3 separate regions of the Homo sapiens genome follow, and all the other regions are linked to region 1. The links come from fine-mapping of genetic effects on gene expression. A gene starts in region 1. Each other region holds a variant in brackets. All regions are shown on one strand. Distances are from middle to middle.

The links. PIP is the estimated chance that this variant, and not a neighbour inherited with it, causes the effect.
Region 2: its variant is the best candidate, but not a certain one, in a credible set for the expression of NUDT6 in regulatory T cells (Bossini-Castillo 2019, PIP 0.73).
Region 3: its variant is the best candidate, but not a certain one, in a credible set for the expression of NUDT6 in whole blood (INTERVAL, PIP 0.54).

Annotation. Positions count from the first base shown.
Region 1 is chr4:122,920,546-122,925,774 of GRCh38, reverse strand. NUDT6 (nudix hydrolase 6) reads left to right here and starts at 3,178. Exons shown (of 5, transcript NM_007083.5): 1 at 3,178-3,440. The coding sequence starts at 3,203. AFG2A (AAA ATPase AFG2A) reads right to left here and starts at 2,697. Exons shown (of 16, transcript NM_145207.3): 1 at 2,470-2,697. The coding sequence starts at 2,632. RefSeq lists enhancers at 2,336-2,705, 2,498-3,034.
Region 2 is chr4:122,857,187-122,862,415 of GRCh38, reverse strand. The region is part of intron 1 of FGF2 (fibroblast growth factor 2); the gene reads right to left. Among named protein-coding and RNA genes, the nearest start is that of FGF2, 33 kb to the right of the region's middle. The variant A/GTA (reference allele first, on the strand shown) is at 2,763.
Region 3 is chr4:122,974,936-122,980,164 of GRCh38, reverse strand. AFG2A (AAA ATPase AFG2A) reads right to left here. Exons shown (of 16, transcript NM_145207.3): 10 at 779-933. Among named protein-coding and RNA genes, the nearest start is that of AFG2A, 54 kb to the right of the region's middle. The variant C/T (reference allele first, on the strand shown) is at 2,841.

The DNA.
Region 1 (5,229 bases):
AATCAGTGGATAGCTGTAAAATAATAAACTAAGATTAATACAATGAAAAAATGACTTAGAGTGCCAGGAGAGCCATGTGGGATCTGACCTAATTTCAAATAAGAGAATGTTTCTCAAAGGAAGTGATGTTAAGATCAGGTCTGAAAGAAGAGTAGGAACTAACTAAATGAGGAGAAGAAAAAGATAATTCTCAGCAAAGAGGACAGCATGTACAAAGTTCCTGGGCAGAAGGGGGTATGGCGCATCCTCAGGAGAGTATAGGCAGAGTGGTGGAGACATAGGGAAGCCATGTAAAGAAGGTCAAGACCACCCAGGACAATAGTGCAATAGGCTGCATCAAGATGCTGGTCATTACTCTGACAGCAGTGGGAGCCCAGAAAGGGATGAAAAGCAATGTCATGACAAGATCTTCATCTTACAAGATCATTCTGGCTGCAGAATGGAAAAGGAATAAGGGGCAAAATTGGAAGCTGGAAAATCAGTCAAAAGGCTGTTGTAGCAGTCCAGGTGAGAGATGATGGTGTCTGAAATTAAGGTAGAAACAGTGGGAATGGCATGCAGAAGAGGAATATGTAAAATATTTAGGTAATAAACATGATTTAGTGGTGGACTAGGTATGTGAGATATGGGGGGGAGAGTCATGGATGACTCTTAGGTTTCTGAATTTTGCAGCGGGAAAAACTGAACAGAGTTGAAGTTTATTTTGTTGGAGGAAATAACGGGCTCATGAAGTTAGTCCTGAAGTATCTTTGGGACACTCATGAGAAGAGTTATTGTACAGTGCTATTCAAAATATGACCCACAACGATTTGTTACTGCTTCATGACAAGTACAAAACAGGAGAATAAGTATATAGAAGCTTTTATTGAAATTTACAGAGTAATTTCACATCTGTTTAATAAAAATTTTTCCTTATTTTTCTAGAAAATCATTTTTACTGTATTTTAGAAAAGTGCTGATCTGTGACCTATTATAAATTTTAAAGTCTTCACCACAGAGAGCTTGAGAAGCATTTGGCTAAAAGGCAACCACATCAAGGCGCAAAAACAAAAGATTTACAAATATAAATCTGACACTGAAGAGACTATAGATGGGAAACTCTGGGCACTGGATGAACTTGCCAAGGAGACAGGATTTATTGAGAGGAAAAAAAAGGTTTTGGACTAAGAATTGACGAACTTCAACATTTAATGGTCAAGGGAAGAGGACGAGCCTGCAAAGAAAAATGATGAAACATCAACAAAGATGAAGAAAACCAGGCAAGTTTGACAACACATAAGAAGTTAAGTGTTTCGAGAAGGAGGGAATGGTCAACAATACCAAAAGTTGCTGTGGTCACGTAAGGTTTATCAACACGGAGATGCTCGGAGACCACACCAGGAACAGTTTCCATGGAATGATGGGGTGGAAGTCAAAGAGGAATAGGCTAGGGAGAGTATGTAAGTGGTGAGGCGGCAGAGACCACTCCATTTAAGAAGCTTGGCAATGGATAGAGAGACGGTTGCAGGAAGAAAATGTGGAGCTTTTGTTCTGATTTAAGATGGAAGAGAAATGAGCATGTTTACATGTCAATGGGAAGGATCTAGTTCAAAAACAAGTTGAACCTTCAGGACAGAACAAGTTGTCCTCTGATACCTAAGGCAGAGTGAAAATACCATGTGAACTCTAAATTGTCTTTAAGGTCTGATTAGACATAAAAGTTTTTGCCACTAGTCTGGTCCATTTTTCAAAGCTATTACACATCAAATATAAATTTTCAATTTTTAATTCAATTTATAAGACTTTTCAGTATAAATACGTTCTCCCAAATCAAAGGAGCTGTCATCTAGGAATGGCTTTTAAGTCAAACACATCTGGACTCAAATATCGGCTCTGCCACTTAGCACCTGTGTAGCCTGAATGGAATCACGTTAACTTTCCTCCCTCTATAAAACTGTCATTACTATACCCATCGGTCACGGCTTCTGTAGAAATTAGATGAGCTATATATACTGCTAACACTAGTGTGCAGTTACTAGCAGTTATTAAATATCATAACCTGCGTAGTACTGGAAGAAAATGCTATCATCACTCCTAAAGGCAGAGTGATCCACATTTTTACTGAATTGGTTATTTAGTTTTTTAGGATAAGTATCCCATGTTCGCTAGTTATGAACAATTTTGCAATTAAATGTGTCGTTAATGTTAAATGAGACAAAGCGTTTCAAGTGCAACTTAAAAATTCAAAATAATTTACAAAAGAGAAACCTTGGACACGGATAAACCATTTCAGCCTAACTTCTCCAGTGCAGGCGCGGCTACGTTTGCATGCTTCTTACATACAGAAGTCTTACACGCTTCTGTGCCGCTCTCAGACCCATGCCACGCCCAACTTTCAAAAGTCTCTGCACCCCAAGTCAGTATCACTGAGTCTCCCGCCCCTCAGGTTGCGCCCCCTCGGCCTCTAGTCTCCCACCCGGAATTCTTTACCCTTTTCTAATAAGTTGGTCACCGTCAGAGTCCCGGAGGTTGCCGCGAAGTCTGATCCAGCAGAAGGAGCCCGTGCCTCCGCACAAGAGGAAGCAGCAGAGGGCAAGGACGAACCATTTTCCGCGCTTTGGTTCAACCGCTTTCTATTCTTCTTGGAAGACATGGTCACAAGGTACCCTAGCCGAAGCAGTAGAAAAGCCGACTCAATGTGCGCGCTTCAACTGAGAGAAAAACTTCCGGGGCAGAAGTCAGCGAGGGTCCGCCCCTGCGCCGTAATCCCCTGAGTGGAGCGCAGCAGTGCACAGCGTGGTGGGAGGGACTGAGCGTTTTCAAAACCAGCAGTCTTTGAAACAGCTGTAACGGCATCTGTGAAAGAAGATAGGTTCCAGGAACGGAACTGCCACTTAGATTGTAAATTCCTGAAAAACAGGACGTTTTTGCATCTCCTCCCGGCTTCCCCATCCCTAAACCAACGTCTGTTGAATTAAACTACCAAACAAAATAAGTGAGTGGCGGTGGGGGAGGAGGTTTTCCCCGCTTAACTGGAGCGGGGCAAATTGCTGAGAAGGGCTGGTGGACCACTTCGCGGTCTCCTTGGCATAGCTCTGCAGAGTGGTAACCCCAGCTCAACTCTGAGGGTATTGATGGCACTCTTCTAAAATGTACGGCCGCGATCTCCGCTCTGGAGCGCGGAGGGGTCATTTGGGCAACGGACGAATTAAGCGGCGTGGAGATGCGGCAGCCACTGAGCTGGGGCCGCTGGCGCGCGATGCTTGCCCGAACCTACGGCCCCGGGCCTTCGGCGGGTTACCGCTGGGCCTCGGGCGCACAGGGTTACGTGCGGAATCCGCCAGTTGGAGCGTGCGATCTGCAGGGCGAGCTGGACAGATTCGGGGGCATCTCGGTGCGCCTGGCGCGGCTCGATGCGCTGGACCGCCTGGACGCTGCCGCCTTCCAGAAGGGCTTGCAGGGCAAGTGCGCCTGGGACGAAGGGCTCCCGGGGCTCCAGAGCTTTTCTAATGAAATAACCGCGGCCCCCACTCCCTAGTCGCTCTGTGCACCACTGTCGAGCCCAGAGGGAAAGGGAGAAGGCACGCGTGACCTGGACCTGTTTTCTGGAGCATTCGTGCTTAGACCTTTTGCTGGGAGGTCTCTAAGGCGGTTGGGTGAAATGGTGAAGATCCCGGACTTTGGGATCTGCAACCCTGGTTGCTGGTCCACTTTCTACTGTGCGACATTCGGAAATTGCCGTAAACCACCATTTCCTCTTCCACAGACCCCGGTGATAAGAACTCCTGGAATTACTGAGAGTTAATTTGGATAATGCACATAAAGTGCACAGCACAGTGCCTGCCACGTATTTAAAGCTCAGTAGATGTTTGTTAATATTATATTATTACATTATTAGTATCCTTTACCGAGCCTTGGTTCTGTCGGACACTTTTCCCAAGGAAAAAAACTCTTACATTCTAATACGGGTGGTGGACTGAGTGGACCAAAGAGGCTTTTCTTTTTTATTTTTAATTTTTGTGGGTCCATAGTAGGTGTGTATGTTTATGGGGTATATGAGCTATTTTGATAGAGGTATAAATGTGTAATAATTACATCAGGGTAAATGAGATACTCATCACCACAAGCATTCAACCATAATCCAGTTACTCTTAGTTATTTTTAAATGTACAGTTTGTTTTTTTTTTTTTTTTTTTTTTTGAGAGAGGGTATCATTCTGTCTCCCAGGCTAGAGTGCAGTGGTAGGATCAGGGTTCACTGCAGCCTCCAACCCCTGAGCTCAAGCAATCCTCCCACCTCAGCCTCCTGGGTAGCTAGGACTACAGGCGCGCATCTGGCTTTTTTCTATTTTTTCTAGAAACGGTGTCTCACTGTGTTGCCCAGGCTGGTCTCAGTCTCCCGGGCTCAACTGATTCTCCCGCCTTGGCCCCTCAAAGTGCTGGGATTACAGGCAGGAGCCACTGCACCCAGCCTGAATCTTTATTGAATATAGTCACCCTGTTGGGCTATCAAATACTAAACCAGAGAGGTTCAGAGTGTCACATTTGTATACAAATTGGGTCAACAGCTGTCTCAGCGAGAACTGGAGTTTTTTAGAATAACGCTTCTTTTATGATTAACCAGGGACGGTGGTGGGTGGTTTCAGTCTTCAATAAGAAAACTTTTTACTGGCTTTCAACCTTGAGCCCAATGATAAGAAAGCTTGGATGGAGGAGCCTTCACTTTGGAAGAAGTCGATTTAGTGGTGCAGCAGTTTTTCAAACGGCCTCTGAGGGTTTTATAATCTAATTGAAGGCATAGCATGCAAATTCAACTATGGAAAAATCTCTCACACTGGAAACTCAAAATAATCTTTATCCTATTGAGCAATATGGCAAGAAGCATATCTGTAAATATAATTGAGCTAGTTATTTCAATGTTTACTCATCCTCATTCCCAGACTTCTTACCTCTTCACATTATTTTCTCTCCTACTTGCTAGTAATTGCTGACAAGCCCGCTTATACTGCAACAGTGTCACTAATAGGAGAATCAATCGTTTTATCTTCCAGTGTGTGGGTAGACACAGGTGTTGTACCCACTGATACTTATCAATGACCAAACAGGTGATCAAAGCACTACCCCAGTCAGCATGACAAAGCAGAAAGCTGTGCGATTTGGAGGTGCACATTCTGGGTTTAAGTACCAGGTTCTGCCATGTGCTTAGCCAGGCATTAGGCAAATTGCCACCAAAAATATTTGCTTCTTAGCT
Region 2 (5,229 bases), 63 kb after region 1:
ATTTTGGAATATCTTCCACAATCCACATCATTTTCTTTTGTATATGCCCCAGGATGATGAATCTTAGAATCATACAATACCAATTTATCAGCAGTGTAAGGGATCATCCAGTACACCTTCCCTATTTAGAAATAAGGAAGCTGATATTTAGAGAGATCTGTCCCTGGTGAAAGAATATGGTTTTTGGAAACAGACAAGTCAGTGTTTCCATAAATGGTGAATACATTTACTCATTAATTCAATTAACATTTATGGGTAACAGCTATGTGCCAGGTACTGTGCTAAGCAATAGGAAGCCCAAAGGAAAATATAACATTGGTCTTTAGCCTTAAGGAACATACAGCATGGTTGAGGCGATGAGGACTGGTACACGGATAACTAAAGCTCAATACTGTAAGTGCCATGAGAAAAATATACACAGGCTACTTTGAGAGCACTCAGAGAATACATCTAACCCAGCCTGAACAGAGAGGTTTCCTGGAAGCAGTGACAAATGATTGGAGACTGAAAGAATTAGCAATAGTAAGGAAAAGAAAGAACGGGAACAAAAAGAAAGCATCTTATATAACTTCCAAAGGAGAAAGGGAGAGAAAGCCTAGCACATCTAAGGAACTTCCAGCAATTAGGTAGCATGGAGTGTAGGGGTATGTATGTGTGTGTTGTGGAAGGGGGTATGGGGGACTAAATGAGGCTGGAGATACCAGAGGCTCTGAATACTATGTTAAGGAGTTTGGTAGTGTGTAATAGCATGAAAGAATGAGAGCTTTTAATGAAACAGTGGGGACAAAGGACAGAATCCAAGGAAGCACCAACTGTGGGAGTGGACAGAAGGTAACAAATACGGGAGACATGAAGGAAGCAGGATTCACAGGGGCTATGAGGAGAAGGAAGGGAGGGAGGTAAAAAGAGGGCAAAAAGGAAGGAGAGAAGAAGGGAGGAAAGAATAAAGCAAATAGTTCAGAAATAGGTCCCAGGTTTTTCTGTCTTGGATAACTTGGAGGTGGTTGGAGCAGCAGGAGGGGAAAGTTGGCAAGAGAAGACAATGATATATGTTCCCTTCAGACACAGTGAAATTGCAATGCCTGTGGAAAATTCAGACAGAGATGTCCAGAAAGCAGTCAGCTATATGAATCCAGAGTTCAAAAAAGGAATCTATTAGAAATAAAGAGGTAATAATCAGAGCTAACAGTGGCTGCCTTGGGAGTGCAGGCTGTGCCTAATCCCTACAGGGAGATGTAAAGTGGCTGCGATCTTCTCAAAAGTGTGTAGCCAGCGCAGATTAAAGGGCAAAGGACATAATCCAAGGAAGCACCAACATTTATGGGAGAAGTATAGGATGTAGAGCAAGAAGAGCCTGGATGGAGTGGTCAGTACGAGCTAGTGCAGGAAGATACGTATATGCACACCTAATACCTACACACACACAATACTTGGAAACTAAGGTATCTAACAGTTATTATTTGCAGACAGTACCATTTTCTCCATTAAAAAATCAAGGGACTAAATGCACCATGATATTCTGGATTGGATCTCGGAACAGAAAAAGGACATTAGTGGAAAAAGCGGCAAAATCCAAATAAATCTATACTTTAGAACCAGCGTTGTAACCAGTATCAATTTCTTAGTTTTGACAAAGGTGCCACAGATATGTAAGAAGTAAGGCTGGGTGCAGTGGCTCACGCCTGTAGCCTAGCACTTCGGGAGGCCAAGGTGGGTGGATTGCTTGAAGCCAGGAATTCGAGACCAGCCTGGTCAACATGGCAAGAACCTGTCTCTACAAAAAATACAAAAAAATAGCCAGGCGTGGTGGCATATGCCTGTAATCCCAGCTACTTGGGAGGCTGAGGCACAAGAATCACTGGAGCCTGGGTGGGTGGAGGTTGCAGTGAACCATGATTGGGCCACTGCTCTTCAGCCTAGGCAACAGAGCAGGATCTTGTCTCAAAAAAAAAAAAAAAAAAAAAAAAAGTTAACCTTAGGGAAATCTAGGTGAAGGGTATAGAGGAACTTTGTAAAGTCTTTGTAAATCTTCTGTAGATCTAAAATTATTCCAAAATAAAAAGTTTCTTTTAAAGTTAGGAGAACATACAGATGAACTATTGAAAATAATTCAGCAACTTGCTTGATACAAGAATATATAAAAATTCGGTTTATTTACACCTACAACACATTATTAGAACTGTTAGTTATTAAAAAAATATTTATGATGATAACAAATAGTATCTAGGACTTTTATGGAGAAAATTTTAAAACTTTATTGAAAATCATTTTTAAAAGACTTAAAAGGGGAGCTATGCATGTTTACAGATGGGAAAACTCGATATAGGTAAGATGTCATTTCCACCCCAACCAAATAGTTTACAAATTTAATGAAACCCCACAAGAGTGGTCAGAAGTAGGAAACCAGGAGTTAGAAACCAAATGCAGATAGGATCTCAAGTGGGACCTTCAAGAAGACCTTCAGTATCAAATGGTACCAAAAATGACAGGTAATATAAAACTGAAAAGTATTCACTAGATTAACCTCAGTAACAATTTGGGAACAGTAAATGCGAACAACTCCTTCAAGAAGTTTGTGAAGTAAACCGCAGATGTTAAACTGTAGTACTCAGAGTAAATAACATGGTGTCAAATGCATGAATTTTGGAGTCAGACCTGGATTCAAAATCAGCCTTCATCTCCAAGTAACTGAGCTTACCTTCTCACCTGTACGATGGGAAACAGTTGTTATAGATCTTTTGTGTGTGTGTGTGTGTGTGTGT[A/GTA]TATACATATGTACACACCCATATATAAACTTTTAGTATATAGCACTCAAATATGTTGGCTTTGCACCCTACCTGCTTTGTTTTGAGATTCAGGAAATTATGTTTTTAGGAATCCTTGTATTTTATCAAAGATGAGAATATCTAGAAGAGGGCAAGTATGAATGTGGCTGAGGCATCTTTTTAAAGTATATTATTTATGCTTATATAATGTCTTACCATAGCGAGCCCAGTTCTTTACCTACAGAATAAATAAATTTTTAGTTTTATTTTATTTCCCAAGGGAAATACTGCAAAAAAGACTAAGACCTTATATAATTTCTCAATCTATTATCCTATTCATTCATTCAGTAATTGATATTGGTGTCTCTTATGTGTCAGGAAACTATTCTAGGATCTAGAAATACAACAGTGACAAAGACCTACAAAGTCTCCACCCTCATGGGGCTTAGTGGCAATTGCATAATTTTTCATTAGTTGGGCCAGTGTTAATATTATTTCTCATTTAAGTAATTTGAAACCCAAGCAAACTGAAACTCTCAATTTAGGGTACTAAGATAATCAGAAAGCAGTTGTCTAATACTATATTTCAAGGCTCACTATATTAGTCTATAGAGAACAAGTACTCACATAACCTGACATCTTCAGCTCAGAACACAATGCTCACATTTTAACTTCTGGCTGATTCAAAAGACCTTTTTTATTTAAAATTGGTTGATAGAGTGTGTTCGCTTTCCAATAAAATTATGTTTTGGTGTCCAAAAATAACTGAGCCAGGTTTAGTAGTCTCCTTGGATCTAAAATTCACCAGTAACTGAAAACTAAATTCCAAGGTATAACCACTGTTTTTTTTTCTTCCATCAGCCATCATCCAATCCAATGCTGAAGACCAGGCACTGAAAACCGTTTAATGCATAGATAACTGACAAAGGAGGCTAGGTAACAAAAGGAACTAATTTGGCCAGGCACGGTGGCTCACGTCTGTAACCCTAGCACTTTGGGAGGACAAGGCAGGCAGATTGCCTGAGCTCAGGAGTTCAAGACCAGCCTGGGCAACACGATGAAACCCCATCTCTATTAAAATACAAAAAACTAGCCAGGCATGATGGCATGCACCTGTAGTCCCAGCTACTCAGGAGGCTGAGGCAGGAGAATCACTTGAACCCAGGAGGCGGAAGTTGCAGTGAGCCGAGACCAGACCACTGCACTCCAGCCTGGGTGACAGATCGAGACTCTGTCTCCAAAAAGAAAACAAAGTAAAAGGAAAAAAAAAAAGGAACTCATTTGCTGAAAATGAAAAACTTTACATCTTCATACATGTATATGGAGTACCCATGGTAATAATCAGATAAATTACAAAGATCAGATACAAATATGACTAACACATTTCATATTGCCCCTCTCAGTAAACTTTCTTTTTTTACTATTTTATTTTGCATATCATCCCAGAAGCCCAAAACCACACATTCCATTCTCTTCACAATTCAACTGGCTAATTAAAGTTTATAAATAAGAACATTAGACACCCAGATAGTTCATTAAAATTCTTAGCAACTCCTCAGCTAGCAAACAAGGTTAAAATTGGGCATAATATGAAAGAAAGAAAAATTAAAGAAAGAAAGGAAGGGAGCTAGCTTAGAAATCTGTGCATTCCTTCATTACTACCCAATCAGGACATGGCTTTACGAGTCCATTAAATCTTTCTGTGTATCAACTCTTATAGCCATAAAGTAAAAATGGTTTTTATTATGAAACTTAAGATTGTAGATGATGACAAAATAATTAAAACAATTTAATTAAAAATAAGTGCAACATACAATGTCTGAAATACTAAATCTCTTGCCAAAATTTTACTTCTAAGCCATACCATTTAACTTATGTAATTTAAAAAATTTAAAGATGTACAGCTGATTTATGCCAAAGGTAGGCTGTTAGAAACAATTTCAATCCATACAAACTTACAATTTCCTCCAATATCTTATGTACTGGCTTTATTACCTCATGTTCTAAAAGAGATATGTTTGGGCTGGCTGAGCTACCAATACAAGCAACTGTAACACAATGCCCAAATAGCTGTAAATATCAGGTGACTCCTGATTCTTCTAACAGCACAGCTGCTTGTTTAAGAATGCCAATGGCTTTTATTTCTATAGTGACACCATCAGATAATTAAGTCAGATTGATGGTAAGAAAAGGAAAAGGTAGGAACTATTTAGCATCTTGTGGCATTCCAGAAGCTCCAGGCGCAATACAGGGGCAAAGAACTGCACAGCAGCAAAGATAAGCTTCAGAGATAGAGAGAAAAGGGGAGTTCAAAGTCCCAGTACTCATCAGTAAATAGTCACAAGTTGACAGGTAGAGAGGACACCTTCCCTCATCTGTTCTGTAGCTATTAGGGATTACAGACATTATCTGACTATCTGAGCATCACGGAAAGGCTAGAAATGCTCTGCCACTGAGGACACTTCTT
Region 3 (5,229 bases), 54 kb before region 1:
TGAAATAAAAATTTAGAAATGAGGGGAGGAATGAGGTGGGTGTGATTATAAAAGACAACATGAGGGATCTTTGTGGTGATGGAATTACTTAGTATCTGTGATGAATATGCAAACCTTTTCATGAGATAAAATTGTATAAAACTAAATAAACACATACACACAAGTAAAACTGAAAAAATATGAGTAAGATCAATGGATTGTATCAATAGGGGTATCCTGGTTTTAGTATTGTAATATAGTTTTTTGGGTGTTTTGTTTTTTGTTTTTGAGACAGGGTCTCGCTCTGTCACCCAGGCTGAAGTGCAGTGGCATAACCATGGCTCACTGCAGCCTCAACATTCCCCAGGGCTCAGATGATCCTCCCACCTCAGCTGTAGCTGGGACTACAGGTGTACACCACCACACTCAACTAATTTGTACTTTTTGTAGAGATGGGGTTTTACCATGTTAACCAGGCTGGTCTCAAACTCCTGGGCTCAAGTGATCCGCCCACCTCAGCCTCCCAAAGTGCTGGGATTGCAGCCATGAGCCACTGCACCCAGCCTGTACTTCAGTTTTGCAAAATGTTGCCACTGGAGGAAACTGGGTATAGGATACACAGAATCTCCCTACATTACTTCGTATAACTGCACTGAATTTACAGCTATCTCAATAAAACTTTCAATTAAGAAAAATATTTTTTTAAAGTTTAGCCTAGGAAGTCAGTCTCCCTGAACTCTAAATTTTTTTCAGAGTTTAATTCAAACAGTGTAGCTAGTGTGGGACATAAATGACTTACATTTGGGACATCAATTGCTATTTCCCTCATGGCACTGGGTCTGATATCATTCATTGCCTGCAAGAAATCCTTCAGAGTAATCTTCACCAGTCCAGCCACCTTGACATCAGGGAGGTTAGGCTGTTTTTTCAGGATTCTCCGCAAGGCACAGAGACCTATAAAGAGAGGAAAGTAACACAAGATTTGTCTTTTCCTTCATAAATACAGACTGAATTGATGGCTCCGGTGGCCCATCTGGAGTGGCAACAGTGAAGACACTGGCTGCAGTGGGGGAGGCGTGGCCAGGGCTGCATACTCCACGAAGCCAGTGGGAGCTGGGAACAGGCAGGAGCCCTGCTCTTTTCCAAGTTGGTGGGGTGTGAGCCCCACTCACCCAGGCACAGCTGCAGCTGCCCAGCCATGGCTGTGGACCCAGGTATCCCTCCACTCTCGAGAACCCAGGAAGCACCCCCTGCCCCAACAGGCTCCGAAGTGCCTGCTTCTACTGCCTGGCCTCTCCCCAGTCCCAGAAAAACTTTTTGCCTGCTCTGATTTCAGACCAAAGTTAAGGCTGAGCCAAGCCACTGTCATGACCCACCTAGGTGTTCATGTGCTCAAGGTGGCACTGACAGTCCAGCTCCCTTCCACCTTGGTCCCCTCCAGACTTTGGGTGCCAATGAGTATGTGAGGGAGGCTGAGGGTGGCTTGGCGCAGTCCTGCAAGCGCCCCTCAGCATGAACAGCCCCAGCACCATGGACGACATGATTGATGGCAGCAGGAGGCAGAGAGGCTCCTGGGCAGAAAGGAGTGAGTCCCTGGTGAAGCCCCACCTTTAAGCCAGGGACAGCCTGAAGCATGGAGGGCAGGCTGTCAGAGCTGGGTAGAGTCTGCAGCTGAGACCAAGAACTTATGGTGCTTTTTCTGGGCCTGCCCATGGCCACCCATGGACCAATCAGCATGCACTTCCTCCCTTCTGAAGCCCATAAAAACCCGACTCAGCCAGACTCACTGGGATGTCAGGACTACCAGCTGTGAGAAGGAGCTACCCACCCTGGGTCTCCTCACCACTAAGAGCAGGACATTCACTGGGACACCCTGCCTATGGAAAGGAGCTACCCACTCCGGGTCTCCTCTCCGCTGAGAAGTAGACACTCGTTGGGGCAACCTGCCTGCAGAAAGGAGCCACCCACTCCAGGTCTCCTCTCTGCTGAGAGCTGGACACTCATCAGGCTGACCAGCTTGAGGACAGGAGCTACTCACTCTGGGTCTCCTCTCCGCTGAGAACTGGACACTAGCTGGGATGCCAGATAGGAGCTACCCATTCTGGTCTCCTCTCCACTGAGAGCTGGACATGCACTGGGACAACCTGCCTACAGAAAGAAGCTACCCACTCTGGGTCTCCTCTCCACTGACAGCAGGACACTCATCAGGATGACCTACCTGCAGAAAGGAGCTACCCACTCCAGGTGTCCTCTCTGCGGAAAGCTAGACATTTGTGAGGATGGCCTGCCTGTGGACAGCAGCTACCCCCTCCAGGTATCCTCTCTGCTGAGAGCTGGACGCTCATCAGGACGACCTGATGGCAGAAGGACCTACCCACTTCAGGTCTCCTGAGAGCTGTTCTCTTGCTCAATGAAGCTCCTCTCTGCCTTGCTCACCCTCCAGCTGTCCACATACCTCATTCTTCCTAAAGGCTGCACAAGAACTCAGGACCTTCCAAATGGCAGGACTGAAAGAGCTGTAACACAAACAGGACTGAAACACGCCCACTGGTCACCACATTTTGGGCAATGAGAAGAAGAGGAGCTGTGGCCCTCTGGGGAGCCCAGATGCAAGGGCTGTGATCAGAGCTGTGATACCAGAGCTGTGACACTCTCTTTGGGGCTCTGCTGTTTCCAACATCTCCAAGCTTCCAGGTACCACCACGTTACCTGGTGCCCACGGTGGAAAACACTTGTGGTATGCCTGGTCCAGCCACATCCTCACACAGAGCCGGTGCCTGTGCCTGCACCTGGGGCTGTCCACTCCACTGCAGCCAGCATGCCTGGCTGTGTGCAGTGGCCGGACCTCGGGCTCACTCACA[C/T]CCCCTTCACTGCTCTGCGCCTGGCTCACCCTTGGCAGGTGTAGGATCCAGGTCAATAGCACAAGCCAAGTACAGCCTGCTGGACCAAGTGGGCAGAACAAGCCCAGTGGGCCCGAGGATATAACTCGGGCAGAGGTGCCACCGGCCACAGAGGTTTCTGGCTGGAAAAGTGACACCCTAAGGATCCTGTGACAGAATTATCACCAATAAAAATATTAAAAAACCCAAACCCCATGCAAGATTACAGCATTTAAAACATTTTGTCCTTGTAGGGGAGGGGATGAGAGGTTGGAAGAGAGGTGGAAGAATGTGAAGAATAAATGTAAAAATCCAAGCACTTAGTTTTGGCAATGAAAATATGACAAATACTTAATATGAGAAAGCATTATTTACAAATATAAAATAGAATTTACAAAACAACATCCATAAAAAAAGCCAAAAAGATTTATCAAAATAATTTGTTTGGGGAACTTCTTTTAAAAGAGTAAAATATTAAAATTAAAACATGCTTTTGCCCCTGCCCTTTTGGTAAATACATTCAAACTAGAATTACAAAGTTTTAAGGTACTGGGAAAACACCTGCAAGCAAACATTCAGGTGGCAGTTGGAAATGTGATTTTGAAATACAAGAGCGAAGCAAACTTCAGAGTGATGTGCATACATGTAAGATTTGATATTATAGCAAGGGAGAGATCTAAAAGGGGAGGCTAGTGAGGGGTCAGGGATGGAGGAATAAGTGTAGAAGGCTCAATCTTAGGAAAGCCCATCAATTGAATAGCATAAAAAGAAACGATGTTTTAAAAGGGAAAGAAAAACTAGGATGACGTAGAATAAAAGGTACTAAAGCAGCCAGGAAGATAGTCAACAAAGTCAAATTTAGAGAGATCCAAAATAAATTCAAAGATACCATGCTGACTTGAGAAGTTAGATACTAAGTTCTTTGTCTTTGCTATTTGCTTGAAATTTAAACATTGACAAGAGTGAATGTCCTCTCCATCAGGCTGTGAGATTTAGAGCCCTTTGATCTGTGACGACCTTTAGTCTAGAAGACAGTAAGTCACTATATGCTCTTTGTGTTAAGAGTGTTTAATAAAATTCCACTTTGAAGGAGTTTAATCTCAGAGATCTCTCAGAAATCCAGTCTGAATATCTAAAGTTATCCTGGAACACCAGCTAGCTCCCATGATTTTTTAACCTTTCTTGTTCAAAACACTATACCTCAATACATTTTTACTAAATTAAAATGATACCACTCCATCATTTTGTTTTCACTTATTTGAACTTTTATATATAAACAGAAGCATTAATAAAAAGAAGATACAAAACTCCACAAAACAGAGGGTTGAGTATCTTTCTCTACCAAGAAAAAGCAGTGAATAGTACAAACATACACCAAAAATAGATCCCCTGCTTCCTAAAGACAGCAAGTCACTTCTTTAGGACATCTTACAAATACCCACTTGCTTTATCTGCCTTCCAAAATGCTGAAAGATGGTTCTTCACATCTCTTGCACTTCTGCTTGAGAGTAAAATCACTGACTGCCTCTGTTCAAGACTATCTTTTAAAGGATGTTGGTATGCAGGAAAAGAAAGTGTCTCTCTCCAAAGCAAAGGATAGACATGCTTACTGTCCATTATAAAAGATTCAGGTTCTACAATTCAAGGCTCCCCTACTGTGATGCAAGCCTATAAAGGCTCAGGTGTCAGGTAGCCCTCTGTATCACTCCGTGAAAACTGAGGCTCAGGAACTGGTGCAAATGCTGCTACTCTAGCTAATTATGTTGCTGCAATATTCTTTCCTTTGACTCTTCTGCAGCCACTCACAAAATTTGTTAGAATAGAGTAAAAGTAGAGTAAAATCTCAGACCCTTTACAATTCTTGACATGTTTATGTTTGCTATGGTATGAATGTTTTTGTCTCCTCCAAAACTCATGTTAAAACTTAATCCCTAATGACACACTGATGGGAGGTGAGGCCTAATGAGAGGTGTCTCCAGCCTCATGAATGGATTAATACAGCTATAAGAAAGGCTTGCCCTTTTTCTTACCCTTCTGCTATGTGAGGACACAACGTTCCTCTCCTTTAGAGAATATGGCATTCAAGGCACCATCTTGGATGCAAAGAGACTGAGCCCAAACCTGCCAGCACCTTGATCTTGGACTTTCCAGCCTCCAGAACTGTGAGAAATAAATTTCTGTTCTTTGTAAATTACCAAGTATGTGGTATTTTGTTATAGCAGCAGAAACTGGACTAAGACGATGATAAATTGGGTCGATTTACTACTCGACATCCTCATTAGTTAAATGGAGCAGAAGCATTAAAAAATATTCAGTGATAAAGACAGTCCCTGACTTAGGATTCAACTTAAGACTTTTCAACTTTATGGCC